Linked DNA regions of Homo sapiens: regions 2, 3 and 4 are each linked to region 1. The links come from fine-mapping of genetic effects on gene expression. A gene starts in region 1. Each other region holds a variant in brackets. All regions are shown on one strand. Distances are from middle to middle. Region 1 holds the start of FANK1 (fibronectin type III and ankyrin repeat domains 1). Region 2 overlaps FANK1 (fibronectin type III and ankyrin repeat domains 1). Region 3 overlaps FANK1 (fibronectin type III and ankyrin repeat domains 1). Region 4 overlaps BCCIP (BRCA2 and CDKN1A interacting protein).

Evidence for each region. PIP is the estimated chance that this variant, and not a neighbour inherited with it, causes the effect.
Region 2: its variant is fine-mapped to the expression of FANK1 in skin (TwinsUK, PIP 0.95).
Region 3: its variant is fine-mapped to the expression of FANK1 in testis (GTEx, PIP above 0.99).
Region 4: its variant is fine-mapped to the expression of FANK1 in unexposed skin (GTEx, PIP above 0.99). The same link has a PIP of 0.9 or more in sun-exposed skin.

What each region holds. Positions count from the first base shown.
Region 1 is chr10:125,892,665-125,900,762 of GRCh38, reverse strand. It overlaps FANK1 (fibronectin type III and ankyrin repeat domains 1), which reads right to left and starts at 4,199. Exons shown (of 11, transcript NM_145235.5): 1 at 4,108-4,199. The coding sequence starts at 4,120. It also overlaps a transcript of DHX32 not described here. RefSeq lists silencers at 3,629-3,923, 4,015-4,154, 4,315-4,394, 4,615-4,694.
Region 2 is chr10:125,962,703-125,970,807 of GRCh38, reverse strand. All of the region lies in intron 1 of FANK1 (fibronectin type III and ankyrin repeat domains 1), which reads right to left. Among named protein-coding and RNA genes, the nearest start is that of FANK1-AS1, 6.5 kb to the left of the region's middle. The variant A/C (reference allele first, on the strand shown) is at 3,814.
Region 3 is chr10:125,976,546-125,984,650 of GRCh38, reverse strand. FANK1 (fibronectin type III and ankyrin repeat domains 1) reads right to left here. Exons shown (of 11, transcript NM_145235.5): 2 at 4,313-4,490. Among named protein-coding and RNA genes, the nearest start is that of FANK1-AS1, 7.3 kb to the right of the region's middle. RefSeq lists a silencer at 2,191-2,240. The variant TTCA/A (reference allele first, on the strand shown) is at 4,354.
Region 4 is chr10:125,828,787-125,836,881 of GRCh38, reverse strand. BCCIP (BRCA2 and CDKN1A interacting protein) reads right to left here. Exons shown (of 7, transcript NM_078468.3): 4 at 6,231-6,320; 5 at 5,275-5,462; 6 at 2,936-3,110; 7 at 331-778. The coding sequence ends at 608. It overlaps DHX32 (DEAH-box helicase 32 (putative)), which reads left to right. Exons shown (of 11, transcript NM_018180.3): 11 at 27-545. The coding sequence ends at 195. Among named protein-coding and RNA genes, the nearest start is that of BCCIP, 9.3 kb to the right of the region's middle. The variant G/A (reference allele first, on the strand shown) is at 4,728.

The DNA of each region.
Region 1 (8,098 bases):
GGAGAATCGCTGGAACCTGGGAGGCGGAGGTTGCAGTGAGCCAAGCTAGTGCCACCACACTGCAGCCTGGGTAACAGAGTGAGACTCCGTCTCAAAAAACAAAAAACAAACAACAAACAAACAAACAAAAAAAAACAGAAAGAAACGTGTAGCAGAAAACTGCTGCCTGCTGGATTTTTAAAATACATATATATAGCAAGAGCTTACAGAACAGGTAGCACCAAGTGGGAGCCGGGGGGCTTCTCTTGATGCTGCATTTGATAAATATACAGTTTTTACTCAGATTATATGTTTGCTTAGATTTGGGCTAAAGATCCCCAAAGCCACCCCTTGGTATTAAAACTCATTAAGAAATTAAGGAAGAGATAGTACTATTGAACTATTTTCCAAAAAAAGAAAAAAAAAAAAGGACAAAAACCCAAAACAAATGGGAAGTGATGTACGTTTTCCATGTTATTTTATACATGAGCTATCTTTCCAACACTGAAGTTGGTTTAGCAAGAAAATAATTAAAGACGTCAATGTGCAAGCCAAGAGCCAAAACCACTCTCAACAGCCCAAGGTTGTGAACGTATTTAATTTGCCCTTTCCCTGGGAAGTCATTTCTTGGATCATTGACTTACTATTATTCTGTAAAACAGTGGTAGCCCCTGCCTTCCTCTGCTTGCTGCCAAGAGTATGATCCAGCTGTGGGGTCTGAAGAGTTTATGTTTATTGGATTTTAATGACTTAGTTAACAAAGGTCATTCCTAAAAGTAATAGAAAACTAAGGGTGTGGAAACAGAACGGAAAAGACTGACTCGAGGGTTATTTCTAGTAGTTCCTTGGTGTTGTCCTTAGATACATGTTTAATCCTTAAAAGCAATTATGAAGGAGTCTTCCTCATAACCAATTTACTGATGCTATATTCAACTACACTTGTAAAATGTTATTTTAGACCTCTCAGTAACAAAAGGAACAGGGTTTAAAATATGTTAGATAATATCGGCATAAACAATGTACTGTTAACATAATATTGCTGACAGTATAACTGTAATTCACTGTAATACTTGATGCCACGTCTGTAGTGCTTCCATTATGGCTGACAGTAGGAAATAACTTCCGTCTCAGGTGAAATCTGGTTGGATACAAATCTCCAAGTTAAAAGAAACCTCAAAGATCATTTAATCTTGTCCTTTTAAATATTTAGTAACTGTGAATGGTAGTAAATATTTATCCAAATTATGTTTCTTAGACTGTAAAAGAATTTCCAGGCTGGGTGTGCTGGCTCACGCCTGTAATCTTAGCACTTTGGGAGGACGAGGCAGGAGGATCACTTGAGGCCAGGCGTTCGAGAACAAATTGGGCAACAAAATCAGACTTTAGCTCTATTCAAAGTAAATAAAATTAAAAAGAAAATTAGGGGCCGGGCACGGTGGCTCACGCCTGTAATCCCAGCACTTTGGGAGGCCAGGGCGGGAGGATCACCTGAAGTTAGGAGTTCAAGACCAGCCGGACCAACATGGAGAAACCCCATCTCTACTAAAAATACAAAATTAGCCAGGCATGGTGGCGCATGCCTGTAATCCCAGCTACTTGGGAGGCTGAGGCAGGAGAATTACTTGAACCCGGGAGGCGGAGGTTGCAGTAAGCCAAGATCACATCATTGCACTCCAGCTTGGGCAACAACAGCGAAACTCTGTCTCTAAATAAATAAATAAATTAGCGGGGTATGGTGGCACACACCTGTAGTCACATCTAGCCAGGAGGCTCAGGTGAGAGGATTGCTTGAGTCCAAGAGTTCGAGGGTGTACTGAGCTATGATCGCACCACTATACTCCAGCCTGGGTGACAGAGCAAGACCCTGTCTCAAAAAAAAAAAAAAACAACAAAACTTGAGCTAAATGGTGATTGAATTATTTAAAATTAAATTGATGAAATAATTTAAGAATATGTGGAAAGAAAGAAATTTACAGTCATTCCTCAGGTATAAATTAAATATTTTCCACCTCAAAATCCAATGACATGAGATATAAATGTATAGTTCACATAAGTAATACATTTCTCACATGGTTACAGAACCTTTCTGATCAGGCTCCGGTTGAATTTTCCAGCCTTATCTCATTTCTCCTCCCTCCTTCCAACCCTGTTTTTTCCTCCTCCTCTCCTTAGCTACAGCTTTACTAATCTTCCTACCGTGAGCCTCAAACCCACGCTGCTCTCAGGTCTCAGGGCCTATGTACAAGTAATTCCCACTGCCTGGAATCCCTTGCCCTCATTCTTTGCTGGGTCATTCTGCAGACCCAGTACTACTTCCTCTTGGGAGCCTTTGTCCATCTCCTCTTCCCCCAATCTCCGAACCCCACCAAGACCTCAGGAGTTCTTGAGCAAGCCTCTGCTTAGTTTTCCTGGGATGACCAAAACTAACACTGTCCGATCCGTTGTTCAATCCTCAATCCCTAGAACAGAGCTGCAACATAACAGGCACTATAAATGAATGAATGGATAAAGACAGCACTGAAGAACTTGAAATTATAGTTTACACATGAAAACAGTAACATAAATCTGAAGAAATAAAGTTCTTTTTTTTGTTTTTTCGAGATGGAGTCTCGCTCTGTCACCAGGCTGGAGTGCAGCGGTGCAATCTGGCCTCACTGCAACCTCCGCCTCCCGGGTTCAAGCGATTCCCCTGCCTCGGCCTCAGCGTCCCAAATAGCTAGGACTCCAGGCACGCGCCACCACACCTGGCTTTTTTTTTTTTTTTTTTTTTTTTTTTTTTTTTTTTGTATTTTAGTAGAGATGGGTTTCACTATGCTGGCCAAGATGGTCTCAATCTCCTGACCTCGTGATCCGCCTGCCTCAGCCTCCCAAAGTGCTGGGATTACAGGCGTGAGCCACCGGGCCAGGCCAAGTTGCTGTTTTTAAAAGGTATATTTCAACTCACTTCTCTAAGGCGGGAATATACACAGCCTGCCATCAGTTTGACATAAAACAAAAATTTTAGCGTTCTTGTATGCTAAATTTCTTTTACTAGGTTAAAAAAATGTAGAATCCAAAGAGCTGTAAATGCAAATGACAAATACTGTACAAAATCTATCAAGCAACTATAAGTCACAACTTGCAAGCTTTCTCCTCAGCAAATGAGTTAAAAGGAAAAGTATTTGAAACTTTCTTGGTGGAAAACGAATGACCTTTAAAAATGCCAACATTTTCCCCAGAGAATAGATTTGGTCTGAGTTCTTCATTTCTGAAATTGTACAAGATAAGACGACTTGGTTTGAGAGTCAAACTGCATCCTTCTATAAAGGTTTTAGATAAATTTTAAGTCTCCATACAAAACACTCCCCTTATTTTGAGAACAAAAGGAACAATAAGACAGCTTAGGCGGGGCAGAGAAAGAAAGGCCTTGAAACAAAGTCCCTGGAAAGGTAAAAACAACAACAAAAATAGTAAGTTAGAGCTCGTGTTTAGATCTGATAACTCAAAACTGCACAACTTTTGCCATACATCGAAAGCAACATGGGAAAACAGAAAAAGAGATTACAAACATTTTTTGAGTGTCCTAACTTGTAGAACCCCTAAGAATGAATCAAATACACTTGGACAAAGCTCTTCTTTTCTCTCTCTCTCCTTCAAGTCGCAGACTAGGGGTGTGGGGCGGGGGGCGGGGAGTAAGACGGGGTCTCTAATAAATACAAGACCCAGCCTCGGACGTGTTTAATTGCTGACATTTTAGAAGAAAAATGGGCTACTTACAATTAATGAACCAAACTACCAAACTAAAATCATGAGTAGGAGGAGGAGTAAATGGAACCGTCCGGGCGAAGTTTCAGGAAGACGCACGCTGGGGTCGCTGCGCCCTTCCCCACCCATACCTCGGGGCTCTCCAGTCGCTCCCAGCCCCCAGCGCGGACTCTAGGGCGCCGGCGGCCCAACCATACAGACTTGGCAGGATGTAGCCCCCTTCTCCCCTCTCCAGGAGAGAAAAGCGCGAGGAGACGCAAACCGTATTTCCGTGTCCGAGCGTTGAAACCTGCGGAGTCGCGCGCGGGGCGCCCACACTCGTTCCCGGGGAGCCCCAGCCCGGTCGCCCGCCCCGGTCCCAGCTCCAGCCCGGGCCTCCCTTACTCTGGGGCTCCATGGTCGGCTGCTCCCCGGCCTCCGCGGGCGAACCCCCGGACTCCTAACGCCTCTCAGCCAGGGCCGGCGTCGCTACGGTTGCCCTGACAACCCGGAGGCGAAGTGGGCAGAACTAAAGGGACGGCGAGCGGGAGGGACCAAAAGCCGCAGGAAGTGAGGGAGCGCGTGAGGACCCGCGCGTCGCCGGGGACACTGAGCGAGGGTAGCGGCCAGGTCACCGGCTGAGGACACTGCTCCTGAAGCCCGGTCAGGCGGTCGCGCCCTCCCTGGCGGCCCCCGCGGCCCCGCAGGACCTGTGCCCCGACGTCGCCGACCCGCGGTCCCCGCTGTCGCCGACCCGCGGCGTCCGTCGGGCGAGTGGGCCTGCCCGCGGGTAAGGCGCCGGCCCTGGGCCGCCCTCCCGGGAATCGGGAGCCGCCGCTGCAGGTAACAGCGGGGCCCCGGCGGCGGAAGGGGTCGGGGGTCGGCGCAGGGGCGGGCGCGCCCCGAGCCGGGTGGGCGGCCCCGGCGCACCTGTTGTAGCCGCCTGGGGGTCCCCTGCCCGCAGTTGGCCGTGGACGTTCCCCGCCCCGACTCCGAAACGCCGAGGGCGGCCTCCGCGCCTCCTGCTCCGGGAGCCGCGCCTCAGCGGGAGGACGGAGCCCTGCGGGCAGCCCTCGCACCAGGGGCTCCCTCCGAGCCCGGGCATGGGCCGGGCCTGGGGCGGTCCCTCGAGCCCCCCTGACGGGAAGCGTGGAGCAATGCGAGCCGCCGCCGTCGTCGCTGTCGTCCCCAGTGAGCCTGGCGCGTCTCCTGAATCGCGAGAGCCAGGAGCACGGTTTTGCCCGGCTTTGCCCCGTCATCCCCGTGTCCCATTTCAGGCAGGGGGCCCGGGTTGGATCTTTCTCGCTGGCTTCGTTTTTTGTGTGTTGATTTGTTTCAGTCCTTCGCGTTTCCGGTTGAGTTACGGAATCTGCCCACACGTTTTGTGGCCAAACTTTGTAGGGCTGTGAAACAATGTAACATTATCCCACACAATAGTCTTTCATACTGGTTTTAAAACACAGTGATTCAGGGTTTGCTTTAAGGAAGCTTTGAGGATCACAAGAGATTATTATCTGGTAGGTTGTAAAAATTCAAACAACCAGGAGAGTATCATAGGTTCCGGAACACCAGAAGGAGGAAAGAAAAATGGAGACGAGAGAAAAAGGATAAGCAAGAAAGTGCAGGGGCATTAAGGGTGTGGGGGGCTGCAGGATTGATTTGGTATTCAGGTCTGGAGATTATGGCCCCTCTATTAATTCCAACCGCTGCTCCAGACAGTACTTGAGGGAAATGGAAGGAAGAGCCGTTTTGGGGGTCATGGAAGTGATTACTAATCTTGCCAGTAGAAAGATTTCCACTCCATGGATGACAAGGACACTAAGGAGAATTACTTTCCTCTTAGGGAATCATTGAGAGGTTAATTGAACTTGAGAAGCATATATTCTGTGATGGAAACTGACATTTATTATATTCTTCCAAATTAGGTTTTCCCCCTCTCAGACTATATGGGGACTTTTTCAGATTAATTGTCAAAACAAGAAGGTTTATGTGTGGATATTGACAAGCAGCGTGATATATACAGAACACATAATTCTTAAGCTGAAGTATTAAGGTAATAAATTAAGGGTGGAAAGTAAACACTTCATGGAACCTTAACTCCCTGTTCCTGAAATTTAGAGACAGGGGCTTCATTTTTAGACAGAAAGTATAAAGATCAGCAGTACTCCTGTATCCAGTGGTTCTCAAGTTCTAGTTTACATATCATTAGCAAAATCACAAAGCGGTCTTTTCATTCAAGATACAAATAGAGTGATCAGTATATCATAATCAAAAGTGACAAGATAGTGATTTAAAAAACACCTGGCATTTATTGACAAAAGAAAAGGTAGGATTAAGTCTGCTCAAACAGTAAAGGATTAGCATTAGTATTTTTTTAAAAAGAAGAAACAACAGTGCAGGTCTCTATGCTAAAGTAATAAGGACTGAAGAAGTTTTAAGTTTGGAAAAAATGGGGATATGTATTGGTGAAACACTTTGTAATCATATAGAATGATTATTTTATCAGCAGCTGTTAAGTTGACTTTGAGGAAATTTTGAATTGAAATACTTTAGGTGACAAGTAAAGGCAACTGTGAAAAGCAACATTTGATTTTAGGGGACAGGGTACCTGTGAAAGAAGACTGGTTAGGAGTGGAAGTCAGGCGTAAAGGCACTGAAATGTCCGAGGCAGGGACAATATTCAGTTTCTCTTCCTCTATCACCTTGTGCAATGTACCTGTTAAATGTTTGTTGAATGAGTGAGAAGGGCTTTAGAGAAATTGTTTTGGATATAGGGATACACTTTACTATTGGAGAAAACACCCGAGATCAGAAAGTTGCTAATGAGATAGGGGTGGGGGATGAATGGTAAAGACACTCTACCTTTTTGGAGTTTTCTACCATTGTGTTTTATTTCTTTTCACGGGCATGTTCAGTATGTTATTAGTGGTCAAATGAAAAGGAATAAAGTTCTATATATATTTTTTTAAGTCTCCAAGCTCATTACTAGATAGAATAGTTACATTATTGTTTACTTTGCTGATGTTTAACTAAATGTAGCAAACTGAAGCATTATGGATCGGGAATAACAAAGTAACAATGAAGAGACAGATGTAGTCTTTTTCTTATTTAAATCTCTTGACTACCTCAGAATTCAAAGTAGAAATAACTTTAGTGGGAGGTTAACATTATTTAATGCAAATAGGTTGATAAAAAATGTAGCAAATGAACATGTTATTAATAGTTCTGTCTTCTAGCCTTACTGTGGTAAGTTGAAGGAAGTTTTCATTTTTGTTTTTGTTGGTTTTAGGGTTTTTGTTGATTTTTGTTTTCTTTACCAGAGTGAGGGTACTTTTTTCTCTATCTGATACTTTCTGAAACTCTTAGGGAGTTCTGTCAAAGGTGGAAAACAATCAATTTCTATTTTTGGTGTTTTCCTCTTTGTTCTCCAAACTTGTCATGGTCTACATTCAATTTGTTGCACTCAAATGGAATGTCTATCTCTCCGCCCTTTACTCGTCCACAGTCTAAAGGACACTGGCCGGGCGCGGTGGCTCACGCCTGTAATCCCAGCACTTTGGGAGGCCAAGGCAGGCGGATCACGAGGTCAGGAGATCGAGACCATGCTGGGTAACACGGTGAAATCCCGTCTCTACTAAAAATACAAAAAATTAGCCGGGCATGGTGGCGGGCGCCCGTAGTCCCAGCTACTCGGGAGGCTGAGCCAGGAGAATGGCGTGAACCCGGGAGGCGGAGCTTGCAGTGAGCCGAGATTGGGCCACTGTACTCCAACCTGGGTGACAGAGCAAGACTCCGTCTCAAAAAAAATAAAATAAAAGTTAAATAAATAAATAAATAAATGGGACTGCAGGAGCATGCTGCCCCAGTTTCTGGAAAGTCTTTCAGGATTAGGCTAATGCCCACTAAATGCACTTCGCTCTCCTACTGGGGGTGCTACACGGTTTAGCATTTAGCTCTGTAGGATGCTTTCCTATAGAATTTTATCTCATATGGATGGATCTTGTACCTCTGACTGGATTAAATATGTTTGGAGCTAAGTGCATGACTTACGCTTCTTCTGTGTTGCTTTTAGCACATGGTGGTCTTCATTGTGTACCTGATAATTTAAGTAGGGTAATAATAGAGAGGTCAAACCTTTAGTTAGGGGTCATTGCATTAATTTCTAGCTTTGCCCTTTTGGAAAACCAGAAGCTATTATTTTGTCATTGATAACTTGGGATAATAAAACCTGCAATGGTTGTCTGATAGTCTAGTTGTGAGAATCAAGATAAATGTGATTATAGATTATGAATGAAAATATCTTGTATGTCGTAATGAACTTTTTTAATATAAAGGGCTGTTATTGACTTAGGCATAGAGCAGACATTGATTCCACATTCACAATGTGTTAGGTACT
Region 2 (8,105 bases), 70 kb before region 1:
CTCACTTTCCACGGTCCCCCTCTGTTGCCGAGGCTGGACTGTACTGCCGCGATCTCGGCTCACTGCAACCTCCCTGCCTGATTCTCCTGCCTCAGCCTGCCGAGTGCCTGGGATTGCAGGCGCGCGCTGTCACGCCTGACTGGTTTTTGTATTTTTTGGTGGAGAAGGGGTTTCGCCGTGTTGGCCCGGCTGGTCTCCAGCTCCTGACCTCGAGTGATCTGCCCACCTCGGCCTCCCGAGGCGCCGGGATTGCAGACGGAGTCTCGCTCACTCAGTGCTCAATGCTGCCCAGGCTGGAGTACAGTGGTGTGAACCTCCACCTCCCAGCTGCCTGCCTTGGCCTCCCAAAGTGCGGAGATTGCAGCCTCTGCCCGGCCACCACCCCGTCTAGGAAGTGAGGAGCGTCTCTGCCTGGCCGCCCATCGTCTGGGATGTGGGGAGCGCCTCTGCCCGGCCGCCCCATCTGGGAGGTGAGGAGCGCCTCCGCCCGGCCGCCGCCCCGTCTGGGAGGCAGGGGGCGCCCCCGCCCAGCAGCCGCCCCATCTGGAAGGCAGGGGCGCCTCTGCCTGGCCGCCCCCTCTGGGGGGTGGGGGGCCCCTCTGCCCAGCCACCACGTCTGGGAAGTGAGAAGCCCCTCTGCCCGGCCGCCACCCCGTCTGGGAGGTGTACCCAACAGCTCATTGAGAACGGGCCATGATGACGATGGCGGTTTTGTCGAATAGAAAAGGGGGAAATGTGGGGAAAAGAAAGAGAGATCAGATTGTTACTGTGTCTGTGTAGAAAGAAGTAAACATAGGAGACTCCATTTCGTTCTGTACTAAGAAAAATTCTTCTGCCTTGGGATGCTGTTAATATATAACCTTACCCCCAACCCCATGCTCTCTGAAACATGTGCTGTGTCAACTCAGGGTTAAATGGATTAAGGGCAGTGCAAGATGTGCTTTGTTAAACAGATGCTTGAAGGCAGCATGCTCGTTAAGAGTCATCACCAATACCTAATCTCAAGTACCCAGGGACACAAACACTGGGGAAGGCCACAGGGTCCTCTGCCTAGGAAAACCAGAGACCTTTGTTCACATGTTTATCTGCTGACCTTCTCTCCACTATTGTCCTATGACCCTGCCAAATCCCCCTCTCCGAGAAACACCCAAGAATGATCAATAAATACTAAAAAAAATTTAAAAAAAAAGAAAAATTCAAAAGCTGATCTTTTTTGCTATTTATTTAACCATGATGTTTATATCCCTATCTGTATTTATCTGTTATCAGTACAAACACTCTTGAGAACTGTTTTTATAGATGCTCTATTCAAGTTTTATAAAACAGATACAACACACCCACAGATACACATTCATAGACACAACTTACATGCTACTTTTTATACAAAAGTTTTAGAACTATTTTTTCTTGGTCATAAGTAAGTCTCAGATCTTTCAAAAGGTACTTTTTTTTTTTTTTAAGTCTGATAACCAGCATCCAAATTTAACCAACTAATTTCATCACAAAGTCAGGCTTTAATTTTATTTTAACTTTTCTAAAGATTTTGTTTTCTAAAAAATTTTCTAAAGAGTTTGTTTTCTAAAAAAAGCAAAAAGAAAAAGGAGACCTTATGTTCAATTTTCAATGGTTCTTTCAAATAATTGGTAGGATCTTTTCATCATGACAAATATTTCTTATTTTAAAAGTTTCTCAAATAATGAAAAAGGAAGAACAACAGTAAAACTACAAGAAGTACCTCAAAAGGACGATTATGAGAATTTATGGATGTGTTACGTACCATAAAAGCTTTTTGTAAGAAAGTTCTTATGCAAATCTGACAAATAAAACAATTTTATGCCTCTGGTGCCACTTGTCAAGTAATAAATGGGAATATAGAATAATAAAGGGCTTCATACACTGTCGCCACTCAGTCCCTATGGTTACTCAGAAGATGGCATAAAACATGGCTCAAGTACATCAGAAACCATAGTAAAAAGGTATCACTCACAAATTATAGGTTTGAACGTAGAAAACTATAAAATTTATGTAAACCACTACACAATATTAGGCTTAGCATCCTACATTTTTTAAAAGGATTGTAAAAGAAATGCACCAAGAGGAGACTCAAAAAACAAATTAGTAAAACAAAAAAAATCAGATTATTCAGCATCTTTATGATAAATAGTTGACCATATCTCAAAAGCTACAGAGAGAAGTGGTGATCATACACTGTATTGGAATTTGCAATTGTGATTTGTATCATGAAAAGTGGGAAATGATAAAGAAAAAAAACAAATATAAATATATTCACTATATAAAAACAGAACACCTTAAAGCAGAATTGTAGTTTCCCTGCTCTTCCAAAACTCATCTGAAAATTTACCGAAGTCAAATTTCACTGGCAAGGGGCATCTGCAGTCTAGCCTCCGGTGGCATATGGTCCACAGTGAAGATGACTGCACACTGAGGGGGATGCTATATGAGAACAGTGGTGGCTGTCACCTCAAAGCAGTTTATCATGGCTTGATCAGATATTTACAGCAACCATTAATCAAAAATACGTTCTAGGTCAGGTGCAGTGGCCAACCAACATCTGTAATCCCAACACTTTTGGAGGCCAAGGTGAGAGGATCACATGAGGCCAGGAAGAGACCAGCCTAGGCAACCTAGAGAGACCCTATCATCATGCCACTGCACTCCAGCCTGAGCGAAAGAGCAAGACCCTGTCTCAGAAAGAAAAAAAAAAAAGAAGAAATTAAAATAACTGTAAGGTACCATTTTACCTATAAAATTATATGAAAAACATGTAATGGTAATAATATTCAGTGTTGTTTAAGACTGTGATAAAACCGTTTTAGATTGAGCATTACACTGTATATTACACAATTCTTTAAAAAAACAATTTGGCTGTATTCAAAAATGGTTGTAAGATCTCCTACTTTGTGGTCTCACTTCTAGAAACACATTCAAGAAATAAATTCAGAAATCAAAAAATAAATATAAAAGCTAAAATGTTTTTGCATTGTATGTGCTTTTATTTTTATTATGAAAAAAGTTTCTGTCTGGGCATGCTGGCACATGCCTGTAGTCCCAGCTACTTGGGAAGCTGAAGTGGGAGGATCAGTTGAGCCCAGGAGGTTGAGGCTGCAGTGAGCTATGATTGTACCACTGCATCCCAGCCTGGGCTACAGAATGAGACCCTGTCTCAAAAAAATAAATAAATGAATAAAAATTTCAACATAAAAAGTAGAACGAATAGTATAGCAAATCCTCTTGTATCTGTTACCCAGCTTCAATTATCAGCACAATTAGGGCCAACTCTATTTTACCTAGGAGTCCATCCAACATCCCTGCCCAAACCTGGGTTATTTAATAGCTAAGTTTTCACAAGACTTTGTATGAGTGTTCTAAACTCTTTACATATACTATTTAATCTTCACAACAACCTTATAAACTGCTATAACTTTCCTCCTACCTTTTACCTGTAAGACTGGAGGCACACAGAGGTCCCATAATTTGCCGGGGAGTCCATGCAACAAGCAGCAGAGCCAGGATTCAAACCCAGGGAGCCCAACTCCAGCGGCGTGCCCTTAACTTTCCATGTGCTATCTACTACTGCCCTATGTTTAACTACATACACACATGCATAAATCACAACAAAAAATAAAAACCAGAGAGGAACACTTTAATACCACTGACAGCAATGAAAACTAATCTAAATGTCCAAGAACATGGAATTTGTTAGATACACTTTGGTACATTATTTATATACAAGAATATTTAGTCATTAAAAGTGTGGAAGATGATATACTAAGGAAAGGGTACGAACTTACA[A/C]AGATGCTATGATTATAATGGCATAAAATGTACAGATGCACGCAGACAGAAGAACTGAAAGAATTTAGAAAAACAAAAGACAAAATAGTAGCATTATGGCTGATTTTTTGGTATTATTTTAAGCTGGTATAGTACTGAATAAAGGGGGAAAAAACAAAATGTAACTGAGCACTTTTACTTATTCTTATGGAAAAAAGATTCAGCTAAGACAAACTACTAGCCTAGACTCTTCCTTGCTGAGCTTATACATATATGATAGCAACAAGTCTGATAAAAATAAACCAAGAATAAGTCAATGTGGATGCTTCAAAGCATGAGACACTTCAATTACACTCTGGCTCAATTTATTGACCATTTTGGTGTCAAGCAGATATCCTGCTTGACATTTATTTCCAAGGAAAAAGTTTACTTACACCCATTCATTCAGCACACTTGTGGGATACCTCTCCTGTGTCCTGAGGGCACAGGTGTAACCAAGATGACCAAGAGGGAAGGGCAAAGAGAGGAGCAGGGAACATTGGACACCAAACAAATACAAACCAGGTGCATGGGGGAGGCAGGTGCAGAGGGAGCCTACAGGAAGACGTGTTCAAAATGCATATAGTTTACATATATTCTAATCTGGGAATGAGGTGCCTTAAGTGAGGTCTCGGGATAAAGAGGCAAGTCTGGCAGAGCCTGCAGGCAAAGAATACATCATCTAATGAAAACATTTCAATATACTTAAATTTTCTTATATTTTTTATCCCAAAACATTCCTTATCCTTTAAAAGTAAGTAACGTAAGTGCAAACTGCCCAAAAGTTGCTTTCCTCTACTTTGCTAGTAAGTTCTTCAAGGGCAAAAATCAGTTCAAACATCAAAAACCAAATAGCAAAAACAATAAAAGACAAAACTCCCTAGAGTAGTAATGGGGAAACATTGCTTCCTTTTGTGTCTCTACCATGGATATTCCTCATCAGGAAAAGTGGGGGATAAGTAAGGATACCTGTCCTGCCTCCCTCTCAGATTTACTGCAAACAAAAAAATAATGTGACAAAATACTGAAGTGATTTGAAATGTATAAAGGACTTCACGAACATAAGGTAGTGATAATGCCTTTGAAAGTCACAATGCTCACCTATTTCACACTTTTAACTACAAGGAAACCCTGCTTGGAGTTCTATATGGGTAACAGGTAGTAGGCAAAGAAGGAAATGTACTTCCCAAGATATTTCCTTTACTTAATTACAACAACTTCAATTTACTGCAGGCTTGCTCTAAGCAAAAAATCATACAGGACACTTGGTCAACAACGGATTCAACCTCACGATGATGGGGTGTTCTCAATTTATAGATGAGGACAGAGAGGAGGAGACCAAGGCTCAAAGAAGTACAGCAGCCTGTTCAAAGCTACAGAACTGATAAGTGGAGAGCAAGGATTTCAATCCAGATCTCTAACTCCAAAATCTGTGCTCTTTCCCCCACAGGCTGTGCCTGGTATGGAGCTCCTGAGATCTTCTATGGAAATGCACACTGAGTGTGTAAAATGACAAAGTCTTTCACAATCAGATAAGAAAAGCCAAATTGTTATATATATATTCTTTAGACACAGTATGTCACAAGTCTAAAATATATTCACAGTAAGAAATGGTAGGATACTTTCACAATAGCAAAGTGTTCAAATGGATCAGCTTATATTCACTCTTAAGAAAAATGTGCTACTGAAGAATATGACCAAGCAATTCAGGAGGATTGCCAGTGAAACCTACTCAACCTCACTGAAAATCAAAATGATGCAATTACAATGATGACATTTTGCATTCATCAAGTTTGTTTATTTGTTTATTTATTTATTTAGAGACGGAGTTTTGCTCTTTGTTGCCCAGGCTGGAGTGCAATCTTGGCTCTGCTCGCCACAACCTCTGCCTCCCGGGTTCAAATGATTCTCCTGCCTCAGCCTCCCAAGTAGCTGGGATTATAGGCATGCACCACCACACATGGCTAATTCTGTATTTTTAGTAGAGACAGGGTTTCTGCATGTTAGTCAGGCTGGTCTCGAACTCCCAACCTCAGGTGCTCCGCCAGCCTTGGCCTCCAAAAGTGCTGGTCATCAAGTTCATTAAATCTAAAATCTGCCAATAGCAGTGAAGAGGAAGAGTGGAACACTCTCAAACTGCCAGTAGAGTATAAATTGGGAAATCTCTTTGGAAAACAAGTTGGCAAGGCTAAGTTGAGGTTGTGCATTCTCTATCATCCTGCAATTCCACTCCTAGGTATGGTCCCTTACATGTGTAAGAATGTTCATGGCAGCTTTACATTTAACAGAAATGGAAAACTACTGAAATGGCCAGCATGAGAAGACTGGACAAATTATGAATAATCAAACATTAGCATACCATATAGCAGTTAAGACTAAAGTTAAAATTAATTGGGGCTAAATATATCCATGTGAATAAATCGAGGGTAAGGTCGAATCACAAAAGAAAGTTGTAAAACGTTATGTAGAGAATGATACAATATAGGTCAGGTGCAGTGGTTCACACCTGTGATTCCAGCACTTTCGGAGGCCTAGACGGGTGGATCACTTGAGGTCAGGAGTTCAAGACCAGCCTGGCCAACATAGTGAAACCCCATCTGCACTAAAAATACAAAAATTAGCTGGGCACGGTGGCGCACACCTGTGGTCTGAGCTACTCAGGAGGCTGAGGCAGGAGAATCACTTGAGTCCAGGAGGTGGAGGTTGCAGCGAGCAGAGATTGAGCCACTGAACTCCAGCCCGGGTGACGGAGCATGACTCCATCTCAAAAAAAAAAAAAAAAAAAAAAAAGAGAGAGAGAATGATATAATCTACATAATATTTGATTAAAACTATATCACAGACAGAGGAAGAGGAAAAATAGGATGAAAGAAAAATAATTTTGTCAGCAATGATTTGTTTCTTAAGCTAAGTGGTGGCATGTGAGTATTTTACATATTTTATGTCTGAACTATTTAATAAAAGAACAAAGTACTGCATACATGGATATATTTCTCTCCTTTTTTTTGTCTTACCCTTCTCCCAACTAAATAGGTATCCAGGTAAGCTGCACTGCAAAATTATCTTAAAATGTTTTTTTTTATTATTATACTTTAAGTTCTAGGGTACATGTGTACAACGTGCAGGTTTGTTACATATATATACATGTGCCATGTTGGTGTGCTGCACCCATTATCTCGTCATTTACATTAGGTATTTCTCCTAATGCTATCCCTCCCCCCTACCCACACCCCATGACAGGCCCCAGGGTGTGATGTTCCCCTTCCTGTGTTCAAGTGTTCTCACTGTTCAATTCCCACCTATGAGTGAGAACATGTGGTGTTTGGTTTTTTGTCCTTGCGATAGTTTGCTGAGAATGATGGTTTCCAGCTTCATCCATGTCCCTACAAAGGACATGAACTCATCCTTTCTTATGGCTGCATAGTATTCCATGGTGTATATGTGCCACATTTTCTTAATCCAGTCTATGGTTGGACATTTAGGTTGGTTCCAAGTCTTTGCTATTGTGAATAGTGCCGCAATAAACGTACCTGTGCATGTGTCTGTATAGCAGCATGATTTATAATCCTTTGGGTAGATACCCAGTAATGGGATGGCTGGGTCAAATGGTATTTCTAGTTCTACATCCTTGAGGAATCACCACACTGTCTCCCACAATGGTTGAACTAGTTTACAGTCCCAGCAACTGTGTAAAAGTGTTCATATTTCTCCACACCTGTAATCCCAACACTTCGGGAGACCGAGGCAGGTGGATCACCTGAGGTCAGGAGTTTGAGACCAGCCTGGCCAACATGGTGAAACCTCATCTCTACTAAAAATACAAAAATTAGCCGGGCATGGTGGTGGGCACCTGTAATCCCAGCTACTCAGGAGGCTGAGGCAGAATCGCTTGAACCCAGGAGACAGAGGTTGCAGTGAGCAGAGCTCACACACCACTGCACTCCAGCCTGGGCGACAGAGCGAGACTCCATCTGAAAAAAAAAAAAAAACCACAGTAATAATAATAATGTATCAACATTGGTTCATTATTTGCAACAAATGCACCATATTCATGTAAAATGTTAATAATAGGGGAAAATGGGTGCAAATTATGTGAGAATTCTGAGAAATATATTTGTACTTTATAAATCTAAAATTTTTATAAAAATAAATTTTTCAAAAATCACCAATATGCAAGGAAACGAAATAACAGTAACAGAAAGAAAAAAATCAAGAGAAATAAACCCAGAAATGACATCTATGACACAATTAGTAAACAAATACATTATCCTGTC
Region 3 (8,105 bases), 84 kb before region 1:
TGCTGATGACTCTGGAGTCTGTCTCTCCAACCCAGACCCTTTCCCTGGCCCTTGACATCCCCAACACCCTCCCTGACATCTCGGCTTGGACGTCAGACAGTTTCAAACTGAGCATCTACTCCACCCACAGTCTTCCCCATCTCTGTTATTACAGTTGCTCAGGCCAGACCCTGGGTGCCTCCTGTGGAAGACTGGATTGTTGTTCAGAGACACAAGGTGCCCTCCCACAAGGATTCTATCTACCTCCCCGCCCTGTTGAACTCGGACATGGCTGCATGTCTTGCTTTGAGCAATGAAGTATACACAGAAGTGAAGTATGTCATTCTGGGCAGAAGCTTCAAGAAACAGCATGCCATGCTCTCTCCCCTGCTACAGTGACTGACAATGTTCACGCAGAGGCTGCCGCATGGCCTGGGCTGTGGCAGGAGGACAATGCAGGATGGAGCCCTGGCCGACCCACGGTGGGCATGGTGTGTAGGAGGGAATCACTGCTGCCATAAGCCACTGAGACTGTGACGCTGATGCTTCCAGCAGCATCACTGGGCCTGTGCTGGCTACCACATATCCCTTGACCATCCTCTCTCTCACATCCCGTATCTCACATCCCATATTCGGTCCACCACCAAGTTCTTAAATCCATCTTTAAAGCATATCCTGCATCCTCCCACTTTCCACACTGTTGTGTTGTCTCCCACCTAAACTGTTTCAAAAGCTTCTTCATCAGTCCTCCCTGCTGCTTGCTGCCTGGCCTCCCTACAGCCTGTTCCCAACTCAGCAGCCAGAGGGATCCTCGTAAAACATAAGCCGGATCACACCTCTTCTCAGCTTCACAATCTCCAGTGGCTTTCCCCGCCTCTCTCAGAGTAAGCCAGAGTTCTCCCAATAACCCTCAAGGCCCAGGCAGTGACCTCTCATGACCCAGCTGCCCTCGCCCCCATTATTTTCCTCCTTGTTCCCTCTGTTCCTCAATGCTCCTGGGACCAGCCAGGTACATTTGTACTGCCAGGCTTTCTCACCTGCCCTTTGCTATGTCTGGAAGGTTCTTCCCCCAGATAGTTGCAAGGCTCCAGGTATCCTTGCTTCAGATCTACTCAGAAGCTACCTTCTTGGTGAAGACTTCCCCACCTCTACCCCAGGCCCTCAATTTTTCCTATGCTGCTGCCCCTCAGTATGTATTGCCTGCTGACTACCTATTTTTACTTATGTATCTTATTTATTGTTTGCCTTCATCATCATGAGGGAGGAATTTTTTCCCAGTGCCGTATCCCCAGCATCCGGAGCAGTGTCTGACACACGGCAGACACTCAATAATACACGCTGATGGAATAAATGGAATGCGTGGCATGGGCAGCAACGATCACAGGAATTTAGGGCACAGACAATAGGGTAGTAAGGAGAGCTTCTCAGTGGAGGTAAAATCTGACCAGGGCAGAAGAAAGAATAGGGTGAGAGGGGAAAATCTGTCCAAACAGGGAAAACAACTGAACACACATGCAGAAAACGTCAAGGCATATTCAAAGGACAGTAAGAAATCTGACTGGAGGGTTTGTGCTGAGAAATAAGAGGCAACAAGAAAGGCAGGTGTAGGGAAACTGTGAAAGACATTAAATGTTAGTCTAAGGAATTTGGCCTTTATCCTTTAAGCAATGGAGGACCCACCAAAGACAATGTGACAAAAGAAAGATTAAAATGGAAATTAGCCCAGCAAGATAGAATGATGAGAAAAAAAAAAAAGGAATAAAGTCAACTCCTTCCATCAGAAAATACACTGGGCAGGTGTAGGAGCTGGGGATCCACAAATGAGCTAGACAGAAATAAAGCCTACATCCTGCAGGGGAAAACGCAGCTAAAGAGGGAAAGCACAGAAGCAATTCTACAAATGGAGAACTCAGTAACTGACTGGCTATGAGAAGCCATGGAGGAAAGCCCAAGTCAAAGACAATATCATTGTTTCCAGATAGACTGATGACTGATGGGAACAGAAACTGACAAATCAGGAAGAAGTTCTTAAATCCACAATCCAAACATCAGGTATTCTAGATAACCACTTTTTACAAGAAAAGCATTTGCTAGTTTTAATGCTATGTAGAGAAAGAAATAAGGAAGCAAAAGAGGTCAAGATTAATGCAGCCTAATTCTGCCACCTAGCGTCAAGATTTGTACTTGTAATTCTGTGAGAAACGCAGGCATTTCCCCACTGTCCTTAGAGCAGGGACCACAGATGTCACTGCCAGCCCCACAATGCCAGGCTGTCGTCAGAGTGAGAGTGCGTTCTCCAGCCTGACAGCAACCAGGTCTCTGGGGAGAATGCAGACAACACAGACACACACCTCAGGCTGGAAGCCAGCACACGCAGCTATGGTTTCTCTAGCTGAGGCTGCCTACCTGGCCACCCAGCAAAGGCACAGCCAAGGAAGAAAGAACGATGCAGGATGGCCCCATTCACCTGCCCAACACAGCTTGTGGTGCTAAGGTGATGGGGGAAAGAAAGATGTCTTTTTCTTTCTCAAGAGAAATGTTTCTCATAATTCATGCTTTTAGATAGAAAAAGCATACCTTCAATAAGTAAAACGACATGATTAAAATAACATTTGAGTAGTCAGAACAAGAACTATTTTTACATTGCAACTACATTTCAGATTTTTCTTAAGGTACAGAGAAATTTCTCAAATATCAGATATATTATCACTCAAGTAACAGTTGAAATTGGAGCTTTCATATACAGATTATATACATATTTATAGATATTTATACACACATACACATAAACATATCTATCTTCTCATGTCAGCACTTTTATCACAATGCAAACTTGAGAAAAGGCCAGGAAAGTGATGAACCTGTTCTGCATCTTGACTGCATCAATGCCAATATCCTGACTGTGACACTGCACTATTATTTTCAAAGATGTTACCATAGGGGAGAAATGGGAAAAGGTACAATCACTCTTTCTTACAACTGGATATGAATCTATAATTATTTCAAAATTAAAAGTTTCACTAAAAACCATATTTGTATCTCATTTTTGGTATTCCTGAATCACAAAATAGTCATTTTGCATTTTTCAAGTGGTAAATCTATCAAGGGGAAGAAATAAGTCAGAGATGATATGAAGACTAAGAAGAAAAACATAACTTTTTTTTTTTTTTTTTTTGAGACAGGGTCTCACTCTGTCACCCAGGCTGGAGTGCAGTGGCACAATCATGGCTCACTGCAGCCTCGACCTCCCAGGCTCAAGTGATCCTCCCACCTCAGCCCGGGACTACAGGCATAAGCCACCACACCTGGCTAACTTTTGGATTTTTTGTAGAGATGGGATTTCACTATGTTGCCTAGGCTGGTCTTGAACATCCAGGTTCAAGGGATCTGCCCACTTCAGCCTCCCACAGTGCTGAGATTACAGGCATGAGCCACCATGCCTGGCCAAAAGTGACTTCTTCATTACTCCTGGTGGTATTGGTTCATGCCAGAAGCATTTGGAAGGCCTGCTATATAACAGCCAGCACTGTCAAGGAACCGGCTAGAGCGTTAAGCAGGCAGAAGTCTTATTTGTCTCTCACTGAGTTTAATACTGGGTGAGGAGGCAGGAAAGGAACAAGAAGTAAACAAGTAAACAACAAGGTAAACAAACTAAGCAAACAAGTAAACAAGTAAAATAAGCCCAACAGAGCTAAATGCTATGTGGCATACAAAACAAGGTTCTGAGCTACAGGAGGCCTGCATGAAAGGATGGCTACTTCAGATGGCCTTCTGGGGGCGGGGGGATGTTTCATCTGAGATTGGCATGGTGTGAAGGAACCAGCTGTATAAAAACAGAAGGAAATGTATTCAAGACCACAGCAACGAGCAAGATCCTGCGATGGGAACCAGCTTGGCCTGTCCAGGCTGAGAGGCAGCCAGCGTGGTATAAGAGAGTTGACAAGGGGACAATGGTATGACATGAGATCAGAGAAGCTAGCCAGGGTAGACCATGCGGGGCCATTCCACGTCAGTGAACACAACAGCCTGATGGGAAGCTCACCTAATTGCATCAAGCTATTGTTTGAGTCTGTCTCTACATTCTGGATTTTAAATACATATCATTAAAATATTTCAGAAGTCAAAGAAGCTCTCAAAGGTACAGAGGTTTAATTTCAAAGTTACTGCTAATGCCTATTTTCCAAAAATTGTAATTCATAAAAGAGCATGAATACAAATGATGCTGACTCATTCTTTAATTTGAAACAAGCAGTGGCTTTTTAGAGACAACAGAAATCATTCCAGCTAATCAGGAAGTAAGGCAAAGTGGCAAGCAATTCAACACTGCACCTACGTATAAATGATACCATAAGTGTGCATTTTGGGGTCTTCTTC[TTCA/A]ATCGAGAACCTGAACCACTGCTCTTGAGGTCCTTGGCGTTTGGCTTTCTTTTCCAGATCCCAGTATAATTCAATGCTGTGATGAGTCACTTTGCCCACGACAGGTGGATGAGGCTTTGAGGGTGGCATGATTTCTAAAAAAAAGAATGACACCGAACTTCAGGACCCAGTTTCCATAAGGAAGAGAGACCAGTCGAGTGGATTACAGCTGCTTGGTGATCGAGCTATTTTTCTGAGCATAAGGCACACATATGAGCATACCTCCCTGTTGCTTAAAGAACCCCTGAAAAGCTAAAGAGATACAAAATTCAGCTGATGTGTGAGCTACCACAGTCTTCAACAAGCATATATTGTACCATGCCCATCAATATCATACCACCCCCACTGACCCTTCCAAAGGGCTGCTTAACATATCAAACTAATAAGGTTGTATTTGACCTGCTGGAACTCAGTTTGCTTCTGTAATCCTTCAGTGACTAACAAAGCCAAGAGACAAATGCTCTATCTGATCCAAGTATGTGGAACATAGATGACAAAGGGTTGACACCTATGCTGTATAAACAGCCCTCAGAAACTAACCAGGAATAAAGGCCCAAGGTTAGTAACAAACCTAGCAAAAGATGAGCAGCACACAAAAGAGCAAAAACAAATTGCCAAGGTAATATCTGGAAAGATGCTCATATCATCCCCTAGTGCTCACAGAAATTGGTAACAATGGGGTATAACTTTATATCCAGTCAGAAACTGAAAAAGAAATTTCATAACTATTGGAGTTCACAAGATAGGGAGAGGATATTCTCATGTGCCAGTTGTAGTGAAATATGAATTATCGCCTTTTTAGAGGGCAATATGGAAGCATCTATTAAAATTAAAAATACACATATCCCTGTCTCACCATCCCACCCCTGGAAACTTCTGCAGAAATCAGAGCATAAATACACACAAGAGTGAGTGGCCAAGATGGCTGACTAGAAGCAGCTGGTGTACCTGACTCTCACGGAGAGGAACAGAAGGGGCGAGTGAATACAACACCTTCAACTGAAACAGCCAGATACTCGCACTGGGACTAATCAAGGAAACAACCTGACCCACAGAGAACAAAGAAAAGCAAGACAGGACAATGGCCCCCCGGGGGTCAGCACGGAGCCAGGGGATACTCCCCTGCCCAGAGAAGCAATGACCGAATGAGCGACCCAGAAACCATGCTTCTCCCACAGATCTTTGCAAACCTCAGGTCAGGAGCTCTCCACGTAAACCCCTCTCTACCAGTGCCTTCAGTCTTCATTCTGACAGAGCAGCGTGGAGTCTTGGCAGAGCAGCCGCTCAGGCACGCGTGGAGACCCTGGAGCCTTAGCTACTCAGGCTTTCCAGCAAAAGTAGCCGTAGCTCTGGCAAAGTGAGAGGTTAGACTCCTGTACATACACTTAGGAAAGAGGATGAATCCAGGCAGCTAAGCAGCAACAGCCCCCACTTCCACTGCACCTCACGAGATAAGACCCACTGGCTTGGAATTCCAGCCAGCTACCAGTAGCGGCATTGCACCACCCTAAGAAGGAGCTCCCAGGGGGAGGGGCAGGCCACCAGCTTTGCTGTTTGGGCACCTTAGCCATTCTAGCTTTCAGGCTTTGGAGAGTCCGAGCCAACACAGGGCAGAAGGGATCCCCCAGTACAGCATAGCTGCTCTACCGAAACGTGGCCGGACAGCTGCTTTAAGCAGGTACCTATCCCGTTCCCTCACTGGGCAGGACCTTCCAACTGGGGCCTCTAGCCACCCCTGCCCGAGCTGTCCATCTGACAGATGGACATTGAATTTCCCCTGGGATGGCACTCCCAGAGGGAGAGGTAGGCCACCATCTTTACTGTTCAGGTGCCTTAGCTGTTCCAGCCTTTGAGCCTCATAGTATCCGAGGCGATCAGGGGCTGAAGCGGACCCCTAGCACAGCACAACTGCTCTCCCAAAATGTGGCCACTTTTTTAAGTGGGTCCCAATCCCGTTCCTCCTCACTGGCCGGGACCTCCCAACCAGGGTCTCCAGTCACTTCCTACAGGTGCCTTTGGGCCGACACCAGGTCCATACCTCCCTGGGACGAAGCTCCCAGAGGGAGGGACAGGCTGCCATATTTGCTGTTTCTCAGCCTTCACTGGTGACACCTCCAGGTTCTGGAAAATCTGAGGTGACTAGGGACTGGAGCAGGCCCCAAGCATACCACAGCAGCCCTATGGAAAAGTGGGCAGACTTGTCCATATCTCCTCACTGGACAGGTCCTCCAGGCCTGGGCCTCCAGCCACCCCCGCCAGAGCTGTGGAGCCAGTACCAACTCAGCAACTCCCCGAACAGAGCCTCCAGGGGCAACTGAAAGCCTCTCTGCCACTATCTCAGCAGTGGAACTGCCCTTGCCACCTTCAAACTAACAAAGGAGCAAAGACTCTAAGAGTACCTTATCTACACCTCCAATAAGCTACAGTCGACCCAAGGAGAGGCAGCCAGTCTGTCTCCTACAGGTCCCACACCCACTCTCCCCAGCATGGCTCATCACCAGACAGGGAACCCCTGGCTTGGGCACACAGCACAAACCCTACATCTTGGGCTGACTGCACCAAGTGATTGCTGACCCACATCTCTCTGAGGTGGAGCAAGCAAATAACCCCCGGCCACAACCCCTGCTAAGATCTCTTCCTCTGCTGCCTCTAAGCTGAGAAAGGAACATAAACACTGAGATCACCCCAGAGCTGCAGTGGGCATCCCAGGAGTGCCAAGGAGAGCCAGCACTCAAGTGGGAGAGGAACACACAGTTTCAGAGCACTGAAAGGGAGCATGACGGAAACTGTGAGGAAACAGGGGAGCCACGCAACCAAACAAGAGTCTAGCAACTGACCAATTCACCTAAGCGCCACCTACTGGATCACACCCCAAAGCTTCAATACCAAAAACACCTCATTAACATACCCCCCTCTGAAACCAGAGACAACAAGTAAGCTTCAAATAAAGACCCTACATAAAGCATCAGCCCAGTGAAAACATCCAGAAAAGAAGTCTGTTGACCGTACTCAATCTACATTAAAGGAACACCCACACTCAGATGAGAAAGAACCAGCAAGAACTCTGATAACACTCAGATGGCCAGAGTGTCATACGCCCTCCAAATGGCCACACCAGTTCTCCAATAAGAGTTTGTAACCAGGCAGAACTGGCTGGAATACAGAATATGGATAGGAACAAAGATCACTGAGATTCAGGAGGATGTTGAAACCAAATCTAAGGAAAAGAACAATCACAGTAAAATGATATAGAAGCTGAAGGATAGAATAGCCAGCATAAAAAAAAACCTAACGGGTCTGACAGAGCTAAATAATGCAATATGATAATTTTATGACCGGGCACAGTAGCTCACTCCAGTAATCCCAGCACTTTGGGAGGCTGAGGCAGATGGATTGCCTGAGGTCAGGAATTTCAGGACAGCCTGGCCAACATGGTGAAACCCCGTCTCTACTAAAAATACAAAAATTAGCCAGGCATAGTGGCAGGCACCTGTAGTCCCAGCTACTCAGGAGGCTGAGGTAGGAGAATCGCTTGAACCTGGGAGGCAGAGACTGCAGTGAGCGGAGATTGTTCCACTGCACTCCAGCCTGGGTGACAGAGCGAGATTCCGTCTCAGGGAAAAAAAAAAAATTTACAATGCAATCACAAGTATTAACAGCTGAATAAACCTAACTGAGGAAAGAATCTCAGAACTTGAAGACTGGTTCTC
Region 4 (8,095 bases), 64 kb after region 1:
CTCATCTTTTTGTCTTAAATAAACAGATTTATGCAGCTGGTACCACAATACTATTTCAGTAATCTGCCTCCTAGTGAAAGTAAGGACATTCTACAGCAAGTAGTGGATCACCTATCCCCTGTGTCAACAATGAATAAGGAACAGCAAATGTGTGAGACGTGCCCTGAAACTGAACAGAGATGCACTCTCCAGTGACTCCCCAGCAAACACAAGGTGCAGCAGGGTCCCAAAGGTAGCTGGATGGCTGAACTGCTGGATATGGGAGATACATGACGCGAAGACGGATTTCACATCCACAGGACGGTCTTGAAGAAAATAACACTGTGTATATTATTTTAAAATAAAAAATAGAAGTTTTTATTGAGTTCTTTAAATTACTACTCCATGCTTTTCTTCTTCTTGGAAAAGTTTTTAAATCAACCACTCATAATTTGACCAAAATTTTAAAAAACTGGTATTTTGTAAATGTGTCAGAGACACATGGGACAGAACCCTACTTTTTGTAGAGGAACTTAATCTGAATAAAGTCTGAGTTTTTCAGTAAATCTCCACTGAGTTTTCTGGTAATTTTACAAAAACAAGCCCATCACTGTCCATTGGAAATGGGTTAGACAGATAGATATTCTTTCAGTTTATCCATGATTTCGTTCATCTTGTCGCCTGGAATTAACATCACAGTTCGCAAGGGCGTCATTGGTACGTCATCAAAAGACCATTTGCCTCCCAGACAAGTGTCGCTCTCCTCCTGCACTGAGTAGTTGAACTTGAGAATTGCCTTCTAAACCAAATAAGTAACCATGAATTAAAAATCGGGACAACCCAAAGACAAAACCCATTTGATCTACGGCAAAGAATATTACGTTTGGCATATGCTTAAATAAGAATGAGAGCTAAAAAAAAGCAAAACTCAGAATTGAAAAAGTTCAAATGGGACATTCAGGCAGAAGTTATAAAACACAAACCAAGTAGATTTTAAACCCACATGAGGAACAGGGATAGAGGTGTGCAATTTCTAAGAGGTGAACAAGCAGCTAAGTGGTATTTTCATTTAATTGTCAAAATAATCTTGTGAAACATAATGAAATTAAGACTTGTAAAATTTGATATTTAACAAGAACTTGTCTTCAAACACTCTTTTCTCACTTTCTCAGCTGCTTCCTTAGCATCAGGCTTTTGTGTGAAGACAGAGTAAATCTGCATACCCCGCCATCTTAAAACACCCATACACACTCCCCCCAAATGGTCAACCTGAGGTGTTGAAGCATATGGTTTTGTTTTTTTTGTTTGTTTGTTTTTTTTTTTTGAGACAGAGTCTCACTCTGTCACCCAGGCTGGAGTGCAGTGGCGTGATCTCGGCTCACCGCAAGCTCTGCCTCCCGGGTTCACACCATTCTCCTGCCTCAGCCTCCCAAGTAGCTGGGACTACCGGTGCCCACCATTGTGCCTGGCTAATTTTTTGTATTTTTAGTAAAGACAGCGTTTCATCGTGTTAGCCAGGATGGTCTGATCTCCTGACCTCGTGATCCGCCCGCCTTGGCCTCCCAAAGTGCTGGGATTACAGGCATGAGCCACCGCACCCGGCCTATGTTTTTTAAAAATTATGTTTACTATTTACTTCCTGGAAAAGAAGGGCACAGCTAAATTTGTAGCGCTTTAGTCTTCTGCAGAAGTCTTCAAAGTGATGTGATATCATCCAATTCAGGAAAATATGTTCCCCTCAGAGATACACTTCAAGATTTTTTTTTTTCTGAGACAGAGTCTCGCTCTGTCGCCCAGGCTGGAGTGCAGTGGCGCAATCTCGGCTCACTGCAAGCTCCGCCTCCCGGGTTTATGCCATTCTCCTGCCTCAGCCTCCCGAGTAGCTGGGACTACAGGCACGTGCCACCACGCCCGGCTAATTTTTTGTATTTTTTAGTAGAGACGGGGTTTCACCATGTTAGCCAGGATGGTCTCGATCTCCTGACCTCGTGATCCACCCGCCTTGACCTCCCAAAGTGCTGGGATTACAGGCGTGAGCCACCGTGCCTGGCTCAAGATGTTTTTGTGTTTTTTGTTTGTTTGTTTGTTTTTGAGACGGAGTTTCTTCCTTGTTGCTCAGGCTGGAGTGCAGTGGCGCGATCTCGGCTCACTGCAGCCTCTGCCTCCCAGGTTCAAGCAATTTTCCTGCCTTAGCCTTCCGAGTAGCTGGGATTACAGGCATCTGCCACCATGCCCGGCTAATTTTTTTTTTTTTGTATTTTTAGTAGAGATGGGGTTTCTCCCTGTTGGCCAGGCTGGTCTTGAATTTCTGGCCTCAGGTGATCTGCCCGCCTCAGCTTCCCAAGGTGCTGGGATTACAGGTGTGCACCACCGCACCTGGCCCACTTCAAGATTTTTCAGAGGAAGAGAGGGTAAGAATATTCTCTGGTATATGGCTGTCCATCACAGTACAAGCTACCTTTATAGGAAAAAAATGCTGGAGATATCCCACCAGCAGGATGACATCCACGACTAAGGACACAGAGCAGCAGGGGTGCCCCAGCTTCCACACTGACCAGCTGTGTGATCGCAGGTAATTTCCCTCATTTCCCTATGCCTTAAAGTCCACATCTGTAAACCCCAGGCTAATGTCTACCTCTCCGCATGGTTTTAGAATGAAAGATTTCACAGGAAGCATATTATAAATGCCTAATCATTCTTAACAGGTTAATCACTTTTCTCCTCCTCCTCCTCATGCTCATAACCACAGTGCAGGCAAGGAGGCTGGTGCCTAGCCTCCTGAGTACCTACTATGCACCTGGCACTATGTTAGCTGCTAGGTCCTGTGGGGAAACAGAAAAACAGAGTAGCCACACTTGAAAGACTTGGACCTAAAGTGGGAGAACAATAAATCTTGATAAATCATTTTCAAGAAAATCCTTATTTACATCTAAACAAATAAGCAGGATAGTCTTACCTCATAGAAAAATTCTTCCTCTGCATTTGCAAACATTAACGCAGCTTTCTTTTTGTTGCTAGGTTTCTTTTTGGAATTGTTTTTTCCTGCTTCCACAAATGTCTTACTAATCAGAAGGTAAAAGTAGCACTTCCCACATGGCTTATTGGTTCTGTGTGCCCCCGCCAGTTCTTTCCTGCAAGGCACACACACAACATTTGTTTACCTGCTGGGTCAAGTGAAATCCATCAACAAACCAGAGCACAGAAAACCCGGTGAGGCATCTTCAGTGGGTTCTGCTGTGACGCAGGCATTCAATCTGAACACTTAGTCTACAGGAATGATTTTTATTTACATAATCAGTTGCATTTTAGATTATGTATTACTTTTTATAATACTATGATATATCTCTCAGATTATGCTGATTTGTGGATATATAGCAACTAACAGATCAGATGAGTCTCAAATTCACTCAATGTATCACTGCTCTGCCTGTGCATAAGTTAAAAATATATACGAATCTGAATTTTTGAATTTTTTAAAGCAATGAACATTTAACTGAAACACACAAAGGTATACAGCCACAACCAATGTCACTACAGCCTGTGACTACTACCACAGTCTCTAATTGCTAGAGTCTGGAACTAATTTCTGACATACTGCAGAAACTGCATAAACACACAACCTAAATTCTAGCAATGGAATCGCAACAAAGCCTTAATGTTTCTTCTTTCTGAAAATTAAACATAGCCTTGTGCATCTGGATGCCCTTGAACAAAAGAAGAAACTCAGAACAACCGTCCTCTTCAGCTTTCCTTTTTTTTTTTTTTCTTTTTTTCGTTTGGAGACAAAATCTCACTCTGTTGCCCAGGCTGTAGAGTACAATGGCACAATCTCGGCTCACTGCAACCTCTGCCTGCCAGGTTCACACGATTTTCGTGCCTAAGCCTCCTGAGTAGCTGGGATTACAGGTCTGCACCACCATACCCGGCTAATTTTTTGTGGGTGTATTTTTAGTAGAATTGGGGTTTCGCCATGTTGGCCAGGCTGGTCTCAAACTCCTAGCCTCAAGTGATCTGCCAGCTTCGGCCTCCCAAAGTGTTGGAATTACAAGTGTCAGCCACCACACCTGGCCTTTTCAAAAAAAAAAAAAGAAAAAAAAAAAGATAGGGTCTTGTAATTTTGCCCAGGCTGGCGTGCAGTGGCTATTCACAGGCACAATCATAGTATATTGCAGCCTGGAACTCCTGGCCTCAAGCATTCCCCCTGCCTCAGCCTCCTGAGTAGCTGCGACTACAGGCGTGCACCACTGCGCTTGGCTCACTTCAGCTTTAACAGGACTAGGAGAAAGCAAATCACCCTCCTATAAAACCAAATAAATGTGAGCTCCAGCTGATCAGAAAAAAAGAAAACCAAAAAAAAACAAAAACCACTTAAGGCACCAGAAGCACAATCTGAGCTACAGCTGAGAGAGCAGGGAGCAGGAGATAAGAAGCATCGAATCCCTAGGAAAAAACAGCAAACGTAAAGGTTTCCAGAGTAGAGTTGCATTCCTACAGCTATTTAAAGGAAAACCACAACGCAAGGGCTATGACCTCTGAGAAAGAATATTCTATAAAGAACCTGTCTAGGTCAAGTGCTGTGACTGACACCTGTAATCCCAACACTGGGAGGCCGAGGCAGGAAGATCACTTTAGCCTAGGAGTTCAAGACCAGCCTGGGCAATGTAGCAAGACCCTGTCTCTACCAAAAAAAAAAAAAAATTTAAATTAGATAGAAATAAATAAGAGAATCTGCCTATATTTTGTCCTCT[G/A]TTGCAAAGCACAGACAATACAATTCTTAGTACACTCAGTTTGCTAGATTTCACAGCTACATTTGAAATATTTTTGTAAACTTAAAACTTCTGGATTAAAAAATAGAATAACAAAAACCCTGAAAAGCTAGCCACAGTATCAGGACTATGGTTTCATTTGTTATGAAACATACCAATAGAATTTGGGAACTTTACCAGTTTTGTTATTGTTGTAATTGTTCATTATTTTATTCATGTTGCAGAAAGCTATCTGTGAAGGTGAAAAACTTCAATCAAATGGGGATGCAAAGTCTATATGAAATTATCTACTTATATATCACTTAAATCTTAAGTTAAAATTTCATGATTATTGTCACAAACTCTTCAAAAAGCCAGTTGTTAATAATGTATGTACTTCACAGGATGTTTCTTCCACTCCCCTCACACTAAACCCACTTAAACCAAGGACAGAACTCTTTCTATATCTACATATTCTACTTAAATGACATTTAGGAATCTATTTGAAAAAAAAATTACTGTTCAAAGATATTTTCCCAGAATCTCTTACTGAAGCTGCTGGTACATGGGCAGAGCGATCTGTGGAGGGACATTAATGAATCTTTCACTTAGGAGAAGGCCCACAGGCTTGGTGGTGTCATTTAAAAACTTGTCCAGCTGTTCAACCATGCTCTTTTCACAGTTCTTCTCACAGAAGCGTAGAACCAACTCTTGAATTTGTTCAACACACTGGGTACCCTAGAAAGCAAAGAGAAAGCTTGTTTCCTATTACAAGCCATCACATAGAGGACAAAACCTGAGAGTAAAAGCTATCACTTTTCATCTTACAGCTAAGGGCAGTTTCCTGCCATAGCCTTAACGTCTTGTATGTCTTCAGTGTTGACTGCTTAAGCATTTCTCAAAAGTAAATACACTGGTTATTTACCATCCCATGATGAGTGGTAAGAGAGTCATAATTAACATTCAGACACACTGGAATGGCAACTCTAGTCCATCTCATAAAGATAGATGGAAGTAACTGGACAGTTTATTTCAAAATTAAAGACTAAGTGTAGCCTGCATCTTATTCTGAGGTGGGTAAGCAGCTGGTTTACTTTTTATTACAACTCATCAGAGAATCAATAAAAAGAGATGAATCGAAACAAAATAAAATGTCAGTAAATGCCCTCAACATTGAGGCAGCAAAGCCTGAGAATATCCCCACTACACAAGTAGCAAAGATAACAGCTGCAGAGAGACAGCACAAACAGCTCCTGCATCAGTACCAACATCAGGACTGCAAAGCCAGATGATTCCCTAAACCACAGGGAGTAAACAACTTTAACTGGGTACAGACCCAACACCACCACCTTCATATTGAAAAAGGATTACAATAAGATTTCACAAGAGCACTTATCCCTATAGTTAATATCACTGTTTAACATAAAAGACATTTTCACCATGCATTAAATAAAAGTGGTTTTGGCCTAAGAAATAACCATTCAGATGCCATCCAGTGAAACCAACCTTTCTTTCAGTTAAATTTAAAAGGCTTATGAAACCAAAAACCTCATCTTCATCCATATCATCATTGCTGTCTTCTGAAACATCCGTTTGCTATTTTAAAAGAAAAAATATTTAAATGTTATATTTAGTATAATACCAAGAGTATAAAACCAAGTCTTGGGATGTAGGCCTCATTTATCTTTTCACTTTTCAAAAGCAAAACTTTGTTTTACCACCGCCATCTTAGAAAGCATTGTATTTTAAATACTGTCACAGTTTTACCACCATCATCTTGGAAAGCATTGTATCTTAAATACTGTGTGACCTTGTTCATTTCGCTTTACCTCGACTCTGTTCCTCTTTTCAGATTCTGAACAGATTGAAATTTCTTTGTACCAGATTAAGTCATTTTCTTTTATCAGATTCTCAATATAATACAAATCCAGAAGAGATAAACCTCATGAAATAAAGCATTTTCATTTGTTTTCTACACAATTAGGCTGGAGCCAAGCCTTGCTTCTCTGCTGGCCCACAGCATTGTTTCATCTAAAACTCATGAGTTTCCAGAACACTTGTCAGTCTTGACCATTAGTGAAGCTAGGCAATGCTTGAGGGCCACTTACACCTATCACATTAGCAAGAGAGAAGGGGAAAAAAGAGAACCCCCTGCCCTTTGTTCTATGATCCTAGGGACTGGCTCCACCGAACACTATGGGTAGTCCCTTTACTAAGAACAAGAAGTCTCTATCCTCAGGACACCTCAAGTGTCTCTGGAGAATCCCAAGAAGCCACAGTTACAACTGCAGAGCTATTGATGTGATTATCCATTTAAAGAGTGAATCCTGCCATTAGATAATAACCTCTTTCAAGGATAAAAATAACTGCTTCTCCTCCATATCCATTAGGTCTTCTAAGACACGAATCAGCTAGAGATCACATTTATTTGATGAAAGGGCAGGTGGTCTGCTTTTTCCCATTGCCCTAATAAAAGGAATGCCCCATAGGTTTAATTTCTCATTTTCTTTACATTGAGTGCCATAAAGTTACTAATATTGTCAGAAGCCTTGAAAAGTGTACACTGTATTTAGTAACAAGTATGTTGGTGACCCTATCACTCAGTGTCCGAATTTTAGTGGTGTAAAAGTCAGATAAGAGTGTCTGAAGAATGAATAGGAGGACAGGAAGTAGAAACCATGACTTAAGATTACTTTTCAAGAATTTTGGCTCTGAAGGTGATGTACTTAAGAGTGGAACATTAGACTGAATGGAGCTTTTGTTTGTTGTGTTTTTCACAACAGGCTAGGGAACAGGTGCTAGGAACAGGAAAAAGACATCAACAGTGACAGCTACACATATGTAGCACATGTCAGCTGCCAGACACTGTTTTAAGCAGTCAGCAATTCATTTTGTTTACCCATGCACTCTACAAGATCGGTGCTAGTACCATCCTCATTTTCAGAGACAGAAATGGAAACAGATTAAGGTACTGTGGCAGACTGTATCTTTCACAGATGGCCCCAATGGATCTCTCCTTGGACATGCTCTTCTGACAAAGTGACCTAGGTACTTTTCTCATGGAGTGGTGGGATCAATGTGCCCTCCCCCTAGATAGAAATTTCTATCTGTAAAGACTAAGCAAATGGTGGAAATGGCACTATATCACTTCTGCCTGCTTCTTTTGGGCAGCTTGCTCTTGGAAGCAAACCAATGTGTGACGAGGCCCACATGGAGAAGAACTAAGGCCCCTGGTCCAGAGTCCCAGCTAAGCTCCCGACAGACAGCTAGGGCTAACTTGCCAGTCATGTGAGTGAGCCATCTTGAAAGGGAATCCTCCAGCCCCTAGTCAAGCCACCCCAGCTAACATGATGGAGCAGGAGCACAGATGA